Homo sapiens: one gene and its partners. The protein of the gene in region 1 purifies or fractionates together with the protein of each later gene. This does not show direct contact. Each region holds a gene or a part of one and is shown on either strand. Other genes may lie near its edges.

What was found.
Region 2: the proteins of DOCK2 (region 1) and ABCD3 purify together in Homo sapiens (affinity purification with mass spectrometry, with the first as the bait; one large-scale study listed by BioGRID). This does not show direct contact.
Region 3: the proteins of DOCK2 (region 1) and ELMO2 purify together in Homo sapiens (affinity purification with mass spectrometry, with the first as the bait; one large-scale study listed by BioGRID). This does not show direct contact.

What each region holds. Positions count from the first base shown.
Region 1 is NC_000005.10:170,074,122-170,077,774, reverse strand, and holds part of DOCK2 (dedicator of cytokinesis protein 2), read right to left. Parts: intron 1,829-3,653; coding exon 1,691-1,828; intron 66-1,690; coding exon 1-65. UniProt on the Homo sapiens protein: Involved in cytoskeletal rearrangements required for lymphocyte migration in response of chemokines. Activates RAC1 and RAC2, but not CDC42, by functioning as a guanine nucleotide exchange factor (GEF), which exchanges bound GDP for free GTP.
Region 2 is NC_000001.11:94,484,338-94,487,990, reverse strand, and holds part of ABCD3 (ATP-binding cassette sub-family D member 3), read right to left. Parts: intron 450-3,653; coding exon 380-449; intron 298-379; coding exon 200-297; intron 100-199; coding exon 8-99; intron 1-7. UniProt on the Homo sapiens protein: Broad substrate specificity ATP-dependent transporter of the ATP-binding cassette (ABC) family that catalyzes the transport of long-chain fatty acids (LCFA)-CoA, dicarboxylic acids-CoA, long-branched-chain fatty acids-CoA and bile acids from the cytosol to the peroxisome lumen for beta-oxydation.
Region 3 is NC_000020.11:46,399,983-46,403,635, reverse strand, and holds part of ELMO2 (engulfment and cell motility protein 2), read left to right. Parts: intron 1-3,653. UniProt on the Homo sapiens protein: Involved in cytoskeletal rearrangements required for phagocytosis of apoptotic cells and cell motility. Acts in association with DOCK1 and CRK. Was initially proposed to be required in complex with DOCK1 to activate Rac Rho small GTPases.

The DNA of each region.
Region 1 (3,653 bases):
GACATCTGTCTGTATGAGCGCAGCATAGACCTGGGACGGCCCACTCTCCTGTCGTCAAAGTCAGGCTGTGGTGGGAGAACAGGGTGGTTAGCAGCTGTAGCCTGGGGAAGGTGGCCCCAGCCTTCCTGTCACCTTCTTCCTCCACCTAGGCAGGGCAGAGTTGTGGGGCTGAGTGGAGCATCAGCACAAAAGTTCCTGGCTGGCTGAGGCTAGGGCGTTCTTGTAGAATGAAGAATGTGGATGACCTTTACTCCTGGTTCCTGGAAGGTAATATCTAAAACTTTGGAATTTCCTATGTGATAGTAGTATCCTTGTTATTATTCATGGTGGCCCCCTTGACCATACTTGATTTTATGCTAATAAGATGGCTCCTGATGGCCAGAAAGACCAGCTCTATGATTATAGGGCTGGGCTGGGGCTTTAAGCCATGTGGTATCAGCTCAACCTCCAGGGAGTGGACAGGCCCAGAGACTGATTTCCATCACATGGCCAATGGTTCAATCTATCATGACTACATAATAAAACCCCAATAAAAACTCTGGACATTAGGCTCTAGTGAACTTCTCTGGCTGGTAATCATACATCAATGTGCCAGAAGGGGGATGCATCTGGAATACGTGGAAACTTCATGTTTGGGACCCTCCTGGACCTCACTCTGTGTCTCTTTACCTGGCTGGTCTTGATTTGTATCATAAACTGAAATCATAAGTATCATGCTTTCCTGAGTTCTGTGAATTATTCTAGTGAATTATGAAACCTGATGGGGTAGTGGGAATCTCCCAGTTTGTAACCAGTTAGGCAGAAGTGTGGGTGGCCTGGGTCCCTGAAGCTTATGGTTGGTGTTTGAAGTGGGAAGTGTCTAAGACTGTGCTTCTAACCTGTGAAATGTGACCTAACTCCAGGGAGTTAGCACCAGAATTGCATTACAGGGACTTCATGTAGGGAGTATTGAAAGTGACAAACTGCCTCATGGAAAAAAATCTTTGAATCAAGAGACCTGAGTGCATCTGTAGGTTCTTCCAGTAATTCACTTTTCTTCTCTGGGTCTCAGTTTTACCATCTGTAAAATGGGAAGGCTGGACCAGATGGTTTTAAAGGAATTGCATGGCCTTGACATTTTATAACACCAGTTAATAAGGAAAAGGATGAAGAAGCACCCCGTAAGCACCAGGCTCATGGCCTCTTTAGGCCAAGGAGCTCAGCGGTCAAAATCACTGGCCTTAAACTAACAGAGCCAGATGCAAATTCTGCCCCACATTCATTTGCCACATAGCCTCTGGCAAGTTGCCTGACCTTCTGAACCTCAGAAGAAATACAAAGGATTAAAAATCTTTCCTGCCTCTCAGGCTTGTGGTGAGGATTAAATGACCTAGTAGATGTCAAGTGCTTGAATCAGGCCTGGCACATAGTAGATGCTGCATCAGTGTAGCTTTCATTATTATTACACAGTCCCTTGAGTAGTTGGTATCTGCACAATCCAGTTGTAACTGGAGTTTGTCTGGGGGTTACTTTTGCTGGACCAAGTTTCCAGGAGGGTTCCCCTGGATGGGATCCAGCAATGCTGGCCATCATTATCTTCTCTTTGGAAGCAGCTTCCTTTGCTGGATCCCCTCCAACTTCAGCCTCCAGCATGCTTCCCTGCCCCACCCTGCACAATCCCACCCCTCCAAGCCATAGGAACCACCCATACCATCTCTCGGACACCGTACTCCTTCTCCACCTTCATTTTCAGGTTCTTGAAACATTCCTCCATCCGGTCATGGAAGGGTCGCAAGTTATCTGACACCCTTTTCTCATGGATCTTAATCCCAGCTCCCAAGAAGGGGATCTGGAGAGAAAGTGGTAAAGAATGAGCCAGAGGCTGACCGGTGGGCCTCAGCCTGGCACCCCGCCCATCAAGGCAGCTGCAGTCAAGTCTGCCTGCTAAGAATTCATCAAGGGCTTCAGGGTCCTCAGAAACCTGCACACACGGTCCCCAGCCATGGGAAATGGGGAAAGTTGCAAACATGAGGTTTGCTCTGGAAAGGAGAGAAAGACCCCCAGCTTCCCTTGCCTCATAGGAGGGCTGGACTCCCCTCTTCCCCATGAAAGGCCACATGGTTGGGAAAATTGCCCCCTTAAAGAATCTACTTGGGGGCAGAGTGTGGGGATCAGAGGAGGGGAATCTCTGTTGCATTGATTTAAAACCTTGCCTAAGATGTTCTTGGCAATACTAAAGTGAAAGGATGAATGTCAGAAGCTGAGAGATAGAGGAAGGCAAGAGCTGAGAGAAAACAGAGGAGGGGGCATAGCCTCATCTTACCACATGGAGCCAATTGCACTTCATACAGCTGCTGAAGAAGGATATGAATGTGCTAATATCATAAAGTTAACCCCCCAGTAGGGAGCTCTGAAAAATGATAATAAAAGCCTTAGGAAGATGAGGGAAGAAGAGAGGATTGATGTGAGGGAGTTGAAGTCTTATTTGTCCCCATAGGAGGTCAGTGGATACTGTCTAAGTGTCAGCTACCTTAAGGGAGAGTAGCAGAGCCATGGTGGGCACTGTCAGAAAGAGAACTGAGAACTTTAGTTGTGTGGTCTCAGGGAAACATAACCAGGGGAGCAAAGGGGTAGATTATGAATTACTTGGGGGAAAAATTGCTTTCATGATGGTGACATAAAGATATTTCTGCTTACTTCTATTGGAGGTCTCCCAGAAATGACAAGGTGAAGGAGAAACTGAAATCTTCAGTGAAACTTGGAGACATTCATAAACCTGCCACACAATATGTGTGCCAGGAGGTGGGAGGACATAACTGACCTTCCAGAGCTTCCAGAGCAGAGGAGGGAGGTGGTGATAAGAAGCCAATCTGCCTACATGAAGCCAGGAGGGCCTCAGAGATTGGAGGCACCAGGTACTACAGAGAAGGCGGGTGAGCTGAGGGGCCAAACACAGAGGAATGTGTTGAAGTTCTGTATCAGGAGCAGTTAGATTGCCTGACTGCCTCACCCTGCAGCCAAGTGTTCTTTTTTCCCATTTTCCCAAGAAGGAGGAGTTTATCCTCTAGAACAATTAGAACAAGGAGCTCTGGGCTTAGGGGCATCAGGCACAACAGAAGGCAGAAGCAGAAGCCAGACTGCAAATAAGAAGTTGAAGAGAAAGTCTGCATTTGGGTCCTGAGAGCTCCACTTCCCAATTCCCAAATGGCCAGCAGAGTAGCAGCTGGGATTATCTTTCTATATAACAGCTTGAAGGGTCTGACTCTGGAGAATGTGAATGGTCCCATGTAGAGAGAGACGTCTGTGGGTCATTCCGTTGCCACACAGCAATGCTACCCAGTTGCCAAGGCCCTCTCTCTTGTACTCAGATTTTCTTTTTCTTTAGCCTTGCTCTTAACTATGAAGAGAATGCCAAGTATCACCAGACACTGGAGGAAAGTCTCCAATAGGAAAGACAGAGACCAGACCAACAGATAGGGAAGAAAGCAAATAAGGAAGAAAAGAAGGAAAGAATAAAGGAAGAAAAAACAGAATGAATTTGGAAGAAATAGAATAAAGAGAGCCTAAGAAAACATGTTTTTCTAAAAAATTTAACTAATATATAGGAACAGAAAAGATCCTTCATTCATGAAAAAGACAAAGATTTTATATAAAAAAGGAAGCTAATGGAAAAA
Region 2 (3,653 bases), on another chromosome or scaffold:
ATCTTACCCGGCCAATCTAGTCATTTCACGCCCAGCCAAAACTATTCGACCCAGAGCTTGAGACATTCGCAAAAGCATTCTTCCACTTTGGTAGTAATCCTTAAATAGAAATAAATATTAGTTTTTACTTATAGTTCTATGACTAAAAATTTGGCTTTATTTTTACTGTTACATTTTCATTGTATTATCATCAGTTTACCTCTAGAAGTTCCGAATGTGTACTCTTGAGATGTCGAGGATGAGACAAATCTAAGAAAGGGCGACTGACAACTAGGTAACCAACAACAGTGGCAAGGTCTGAAACCAAACAGGTAAGATTTAAAACAGTAACAGTATTTCACCTTTTCCACAAATCTCATCTCTTTCAAAATATACTTACATTTGGCAATAATACTATCAATGAAGCCCATTGAAAACCGAAACAAAATGAAATTATGTAGGTGTTCCACCTGGCAGAAAACAAAAACAAAAAACCATCTTTTTCTCTGTATAAAAAACTGAATCTACTATAAGGATAAAACAAACTGTATAGTTCATTTATTCAACAAATATTTACTGAGTGCCCGTGATTTCTGTTTATATTCTGTTTATATTGTACATCACACCACCGAGGACAATGCTCTTCACAGAGCGGGTGCCAAACAAACACTTCATGAAACCATTTTTATGCAAACAGCATGGAAATTACATAAACAATTTTAACAATGCTGTTTCTCTTGCATGCAATAGCACAATGCTATTGTAGTCACCATGCTTTTGGATACACATATCCCAAAAGAGGACAACAACGAAAGCAAAAAGAACAGAGATTAACTAGTTTGAGTGAAACACTAGCTGTCCGGATTGGCACTGAATGCTTTGCTTTCAGTGGAGACACATGGTCTGTGCTTTATCTAAGAATTGTATTACACCCAATCTGAACTGAGTGCTAATGTAAATCAGTGCCACACAGCCTCAGTTTTAGCTTTAACATGAGCACGCATTGTCTTAAAACTACAAGTCTAAAACTGCTTTTTTATTCTGGAGTTGTAGTGTTCTCAAACTGTCCATCTACCAGATTATTCAAGGTCCTGCATGATCTGGCACTGAGCTCTATTTTTAAGGTCATATGCTTCTACTTTGCTCCTCCTCACCAAGCTCCAGAAATAACGGTTTCTCAAACATGTACCTTCTTAAGGATTTCCTCTTGCTCTTCTCACTGCCAGGAATACATTCTTCTAAGGTATCTATATTTTGTGACTCCTTCACTTTCATGTGGATTTCTGACTAAATGTCACCTCCTCAAGAAAGATCTTGGCCATTCCAGCTAAAGTAGCTGGGCAATAGCCCCCTTCATATCTATCCCTTTATCCTGCTTCATTTTTGGCCACCGAATTCATTACTACCTGAAATTATACAGAACATCTAGTTGTTTATTTATTGTCTGCTCCACTAAAATGTGGCTTCCTGAGTACAGGGTAGCTTGTTAACAACTTGGTATCTTCTGCAACTAGACAATCTCTGGAACATTTATTCAATGACTACCATGTGTCAGACACTGTGCTCAAGCTGGAGATACAATGAATAGAACAGAGAAGGTCCCTGAATTTATGGAGTTTACATTCTAATGAAAGAGCATAACTAGTAAACAAGATAATTAGAGACTGTAATACAGTCATCCCTCGGTATCCAAAGGGGATGGGATTGGTTCCAGGACCTTCTGGATACCAAAATCCATGGATGCTCAAGTCCCTGATGAAAAATGGCATAGTATTTGCATATACCTGAGTACGACATCCCATACACTTTATTTACTTTTTGAGACAGAGTCTCACTCTGTCGCCAAGGCTGGAGTGCAGTGGTGCCATCTTGGCTCAATGCAACCTCCGCCTCCTGGGTTCCAGTGATTCTCCTGCCTCAGCCTCCCGAGTAGCTGGGATTATAGGCCCCCGCCACAACAACCGGCTAATTTTTGTATTTTTAGTAGAGATGGGGTTTTGCCATGTTGGTCAGGCTGGTCTCGAACTCCTGACCTCAACTGATCTGCCCGCCTCAGCCTCCCAAAGTGCTGGGATTACAGGGGTGAGCCACCGCAACTGGCTCATCCCAAACACTTTAAGTCATCTCTAAATTACTTATAAAACTTAATACAATGTAAATAGCTATTACACTAATGTCTGTATTGTTCAGAGAATAATGACAAGAAAAAAATATGTGTACATAAGTACAGACACAATTTCTTTTTCTGAATATTTTCAATCTGTGTGGTTGAATCCATGGATTTGGAACCCACAGATGCAGAGGGTTGACTGCAAATATATATATACTTTTAAGGAAAGATGATGATTAAAACAAGAAGTAACTGTTGGAGGCCATTTCAAATAGGCTGATCAGAGAAGACAAAGCTTCAATAAGGTGTTAACATTTGGGCTGAAAATCTAAAGGATGAGAATAAGCAAGCCGTGTGGAGAGCAAACTGGTGAACTGCAGGCCCCTGAAAAATTACCTTAAATGCATTCTACCAGTGAGCACTCTAAAAGTTCTGCCATGTTAAATACCGACGAGGCAAAAATCCAATTTCTGAAATAATTTAAAATGACAATTTCTTTAACCTCTTTAACTCATCTAAAATATACATTTAATTTCACAAACTTCAGACTTCCACTAAAATGTAAGCTCCTTAAAGGCAAGATTTTATCCATCATGTCCACCACCATCATCCTTAGCACCTGGAGTGAGCACAGGCAACTAGACGGCATTCAATATCTTTTGAATAAATAATGGAATAAAAGTACTTGAATTCAAATTTTCCAAGTGGCAATTAAATAAAAACTGAAGTAAAGCTTTCACAAGAAACAATGCTTATATTCTTTAAAACAAAAAGCCAGTAAACTCTGACCCATAGTCCAAATCTAGCCTGCTACTTGTTTTTTTAAGTAAAGTTTTATTAGAACATAGCCACACCCACTCATTCATGTATTATATATAGCTACTCTTGAGTAGCGGAGCTGAATAGTTGCAAGACACTGTGTGGTATGAAAAGCCTAAAATATATACATACTATCTTGCCCTTTATGGAAAAAGTTTGCTGACTCTTGCTTTACATAATAATCTTTATTGTATTTTCATGAATGCTTCAGGAACAAATTCTTTCTGTGGGAATCACTAAATAAGGCTCCTAAGCAACCTCTGTAAAAATACACTTAATTTTTTTTTTATGTTTTTGATTATACTTTAAGTTCTAGGGTACATGTGCACAACGTGCAGGTTTGTTACATATGCATGCATTTGCCATGTTGGTGTGCTGCACTCATTAAGTCGTCATTTACATTAGGTATATCTCCTAATGCTATCCCTCCCCCAGGCCCCCACCCCACAACAGGCCCCGGTGTGTGGTGTTCCCCACCCTGGGTCCAGGTGTTCTCATTGTTCAATTCCCACCTATGAGTGAGAACATGCAGTGTTTGGTTTTCCGTCCTTGCAACAGTTTGCTCAGAATGATGGTTGCCAGCTGCATCCATGTCCCCACAAAGGACATGAACTCATAATTTTTATGGCTGCATAGTATTCCATGGTGTATATGTGCCACATTTTCTTTGTCCAGTCTATCACTGATGGACATTCGGGTTGGTTCCAAGTCTTTGCTATTGTGAATAGTGCCACAATAAACGTAT
Region 3 (3,653 bases), on another chromosome or scaffold:
GCAAGGCATCATGAGGTGTAATGAAGAGCCAGAATCAGTATGGGCTGGAGGCTGCAAAGTGGCTGTCTTGGCCAAGCTGCATGATGTGTTTTTAAAAATGTTGGATTTAAACTCCTCTAGGCAAGGTGGTACTTTGCAGTGTTACAGACCCTACATGGAGGCTGCTTGTTTTATTTACTTACCTGCTTGGCTGCCCAAGACATTTGAATTTATAACCCTATTAGGCATGCTATGCTGGTTTCATGTGAGTCACTAGAAAATATTTGTTGAGCACTTCTTATTTGCCAGGCATTGTATTAGCTGCTGCTTTGGAACTGATCATAACATTTTCCAAAGTTCTTCCACTGGGAAATAGTAATAATAATAGTGGAACACCAACAAATGCTTTGCCTTTTGTATTGACTTTCCTCCCGGACTGCCTTCACATATGCTCTCTTATTTTGTCAACAATACACAACATACCTGCCTAGCAGGTAGGGCTTACTGTGTTGGGGAAACGTGGTTTCAGAGCTTTTGCAGTTTCTTCAGGTTCACACGGTTAGAATTCTGCTATTATGCTTAGTGCTTTATTATCCCACTTGATGCTCACAACAGCTTTACGGGGTAGAGTTGATGCTAATCCCCATTTTACAGGTAAGAAAATCGTTAGTGCTAAGATCCAAGTTCAGGCCTTTCCCACTCCAGAACACAGCTCCTAACTTGTTAAGCTACACTTCCTCACTAGAAGGCCAAAGTTGGAAGAAAGCTCAAAAACATCTAGTCCAGCCCCCGATGTAGATCAGGACCTGAGGTCCAGAAAGGCTTGTGTTTGTGGCAAAGCTGTGCTGCAGGAGGAGGACTAAACCAGAAGTGGGGGCCTAGGCCTTCTTTTGTCCCTAACTGGTGGCATGGCCTTGCCAGCTTCTCTGGACTTCAGTTCCCTTATTTATGTAATGAAAGGGCTTGGCCTGATTTTACACTGAGAACAATGCTGTGCTGTTATGGTCAGTATTGAAGGAGTTCACAGCCCGAGATTTTAGTTGTAACCCAGGACTCTTCCCAGCACACCACACTCCCTCCCTACCCAAGCTCCATCTCCTTGTGCAATCACGGTTTTCTAAAGTTTAATTCTGAAGTTCATCTGTATTTTCCATCTCAGTTTCTGTTTCCTCTCATTTCCAAAAACTGAGGTAAGTGGTTTGTAAACACTGACTTTTTGTAAATTCATCTCTTCAGTCATTGTGGTTAGGGATTTGGAAAGTTCTAGGCAATTAATAATCCTCAGTCAGTAGTGTTTTCACTCTCTTCTGAAGGCATTTAGGTCTGGAGGCACCCTGGAGGGAATTTTCCTGTGGAATTCTGTGGACACAGCTATGTGGCAGGCAGTGTGCTGCAAACTGGGGGAAGAGTAGATGGGGGAATAGACTTAGGCTTCATGAGTCCTTGCCCTCAGGTTGTCAACTCTCCTGGAGCTGTGGGTCAACCCTGAGCATCTGAGAGTTTATAAATGACCTGGGGTGTGTGTTGATGGTGCACAACCAGAGTTGAGAACCACTGTTTCTCGGACCTTATCTGATCTAGAGCCTATGTCCCAGACTTGAACATGCACTTGAACCACCTCAGGATCTTGTTTGAAGGCAGATTCTGATTGGGTGGGTCTGGGCTCCCAGGGATACTGCCGCTGCTGGTATGCACATCACACCTATCGTAGCCAGGGAAGAGACTGCACATAGAGAATTATAAATCAGTAGGATCAGGAAGGTATGTACAGAAGACTGGGATCACAGATGAGGCTGCAATTAATTTTCCCTGAGGTGAGAGGATTAGGAAAGCCACATAGAAGAGTGATTATCTTAGCTGGGCCTTGAAGGTTGAGTTGAAGTTTGCCAGCTGGACAAGGAAGAGGAAATAATAGCACAAGCAAACATACAGACTCAGAAGAGCATGGTTTTTCAGGGAACAGGTGGTCTGGTGAGAACATGGCATCTGCAAAAGCGAATCTGAAAGCCAGTTCCACCACAGAGCCACGGTGGAACTGGAGTAAGTTGAATGCTCTGCTAAGGAGCTTACTTAAGCACTATTCTTTAAGTATAGGAACACTACAGAAGGTGTCTGTGCAGGATAAGAGAAGACCCAGGCCATTCTTACAGCAGGAATCAAGATGAAGAAACCCAAATAGTTCCCCTGCCCCCACACCCCTTCTCACCACACCTTTGCCTCTATGTAAGTTTGTGGCTTTTTACCATGTGTGAATGAGTCCTGTGTCTAACATACTTCAACAAAAAGGGGAAACCTCAGCTGCTGTTGGTATGGTGGTCCTTCCCAGGGCTTCCAGCAGTAAACATAAGAACCTTAATCTCTGCCAGTCAAATCCTCCCTTTTCTGTACCTCAGAGTCTGATCGTCATTCAGTGGACTGAACTAAGGGAAGTTGAATCACTTCTCAGATGAGAAGATTTCAGAGGGGGAAGCCTTTATAGAGATTGTGTTCTCGATTAGAAAGGGCGTGACTCCAACTTGCCTTCTTGATGAGGTTGCATTCTGTTGCAGGAAACATAAACCAAACTTACCCATGCCTCCTTCACCAAATCAAAAGCCAAATAACTGAACAAAAAGTACACATCCGTTCTTATCCTGAAAGGAATAGGGGGAAGGAGGGGAGCTGGAAACCTGGCATTCTTCATCCCAAATTCCTTACTAATAGGAGGAGATCATCTTTCACTTCATTCCTTAAGATTCGGTTTCCAATCCTGCTCTCAGAATCCAGCTCCGTGAAGCAGCAGTCACTGCATGGGTGATTGATAAAGCTCCATGGGGCTTCTGTAACAGTGCTGATTTTATAAGCACACCTTCTAGAAGCCACTTAGAGACTGCTCCATTGGAGACACTAATGTTCCTATTTTTCTCTACTTTTCCCAGCTCTGTGTTTGAAAAACTGGCCTTTCATTCTTATGACTTATAGTAAAATTGTCATCAGGTCAGTGTGTGCCTGTCTCCTGTTTTGTAGCATTTTGAGTTTTCCAAATCATCCTTATATCTGTAATGCTTAAAGAGGAGTGGAAGGTAGAAGGGTGGGGAGTTGTTTAATCCGGAAGGGGCCCTCTGGGCCTGGATATGGAACTACAGCTCCCTTATGCTGGTGGTTTGCAATTGAGCTACAGTACTGCTGAGTGGCGGAGCAAGAGGCTATTTATAACCCTGAGAATTTTGCAATGTTACTGAATTCCTTTGACCTAATTTCTACTTCCTTTCTAGAATGAAAATGAAGGGAGTAAGCAAACACGTGCTGGAAGGGTTCCCTATAAGGAGATCCTTTATCCTGGGAATATTATCTGGAGAACAGAATTATTTCTAGTCTCCTATCTCCTGATGTTTCTTTTCGATAGGGAGAAAAGCAGAGGGAGGTTTTCCTCTTTCTTTCAACTAGAGTTAGGGGTGCTAACCCTGATTTTTCAGTAAGACTTATTCTAATGTTTGATATGAAAACAACAGTTTTTTATTTTATTTTTATTTTTTAATAGAGACAGGATCTCACTTTGTCACCCAGGCTAGAGTTCAGTGACATGATCATAGTTCACTGCAGCCTCGAACTCCTGGGCTCAAGCAACTCTCCTGCCTCAGCCTCCTGAGTAGCTAGGGACTACAGGCACACGCCACCATGCCCAGCTAATTTTT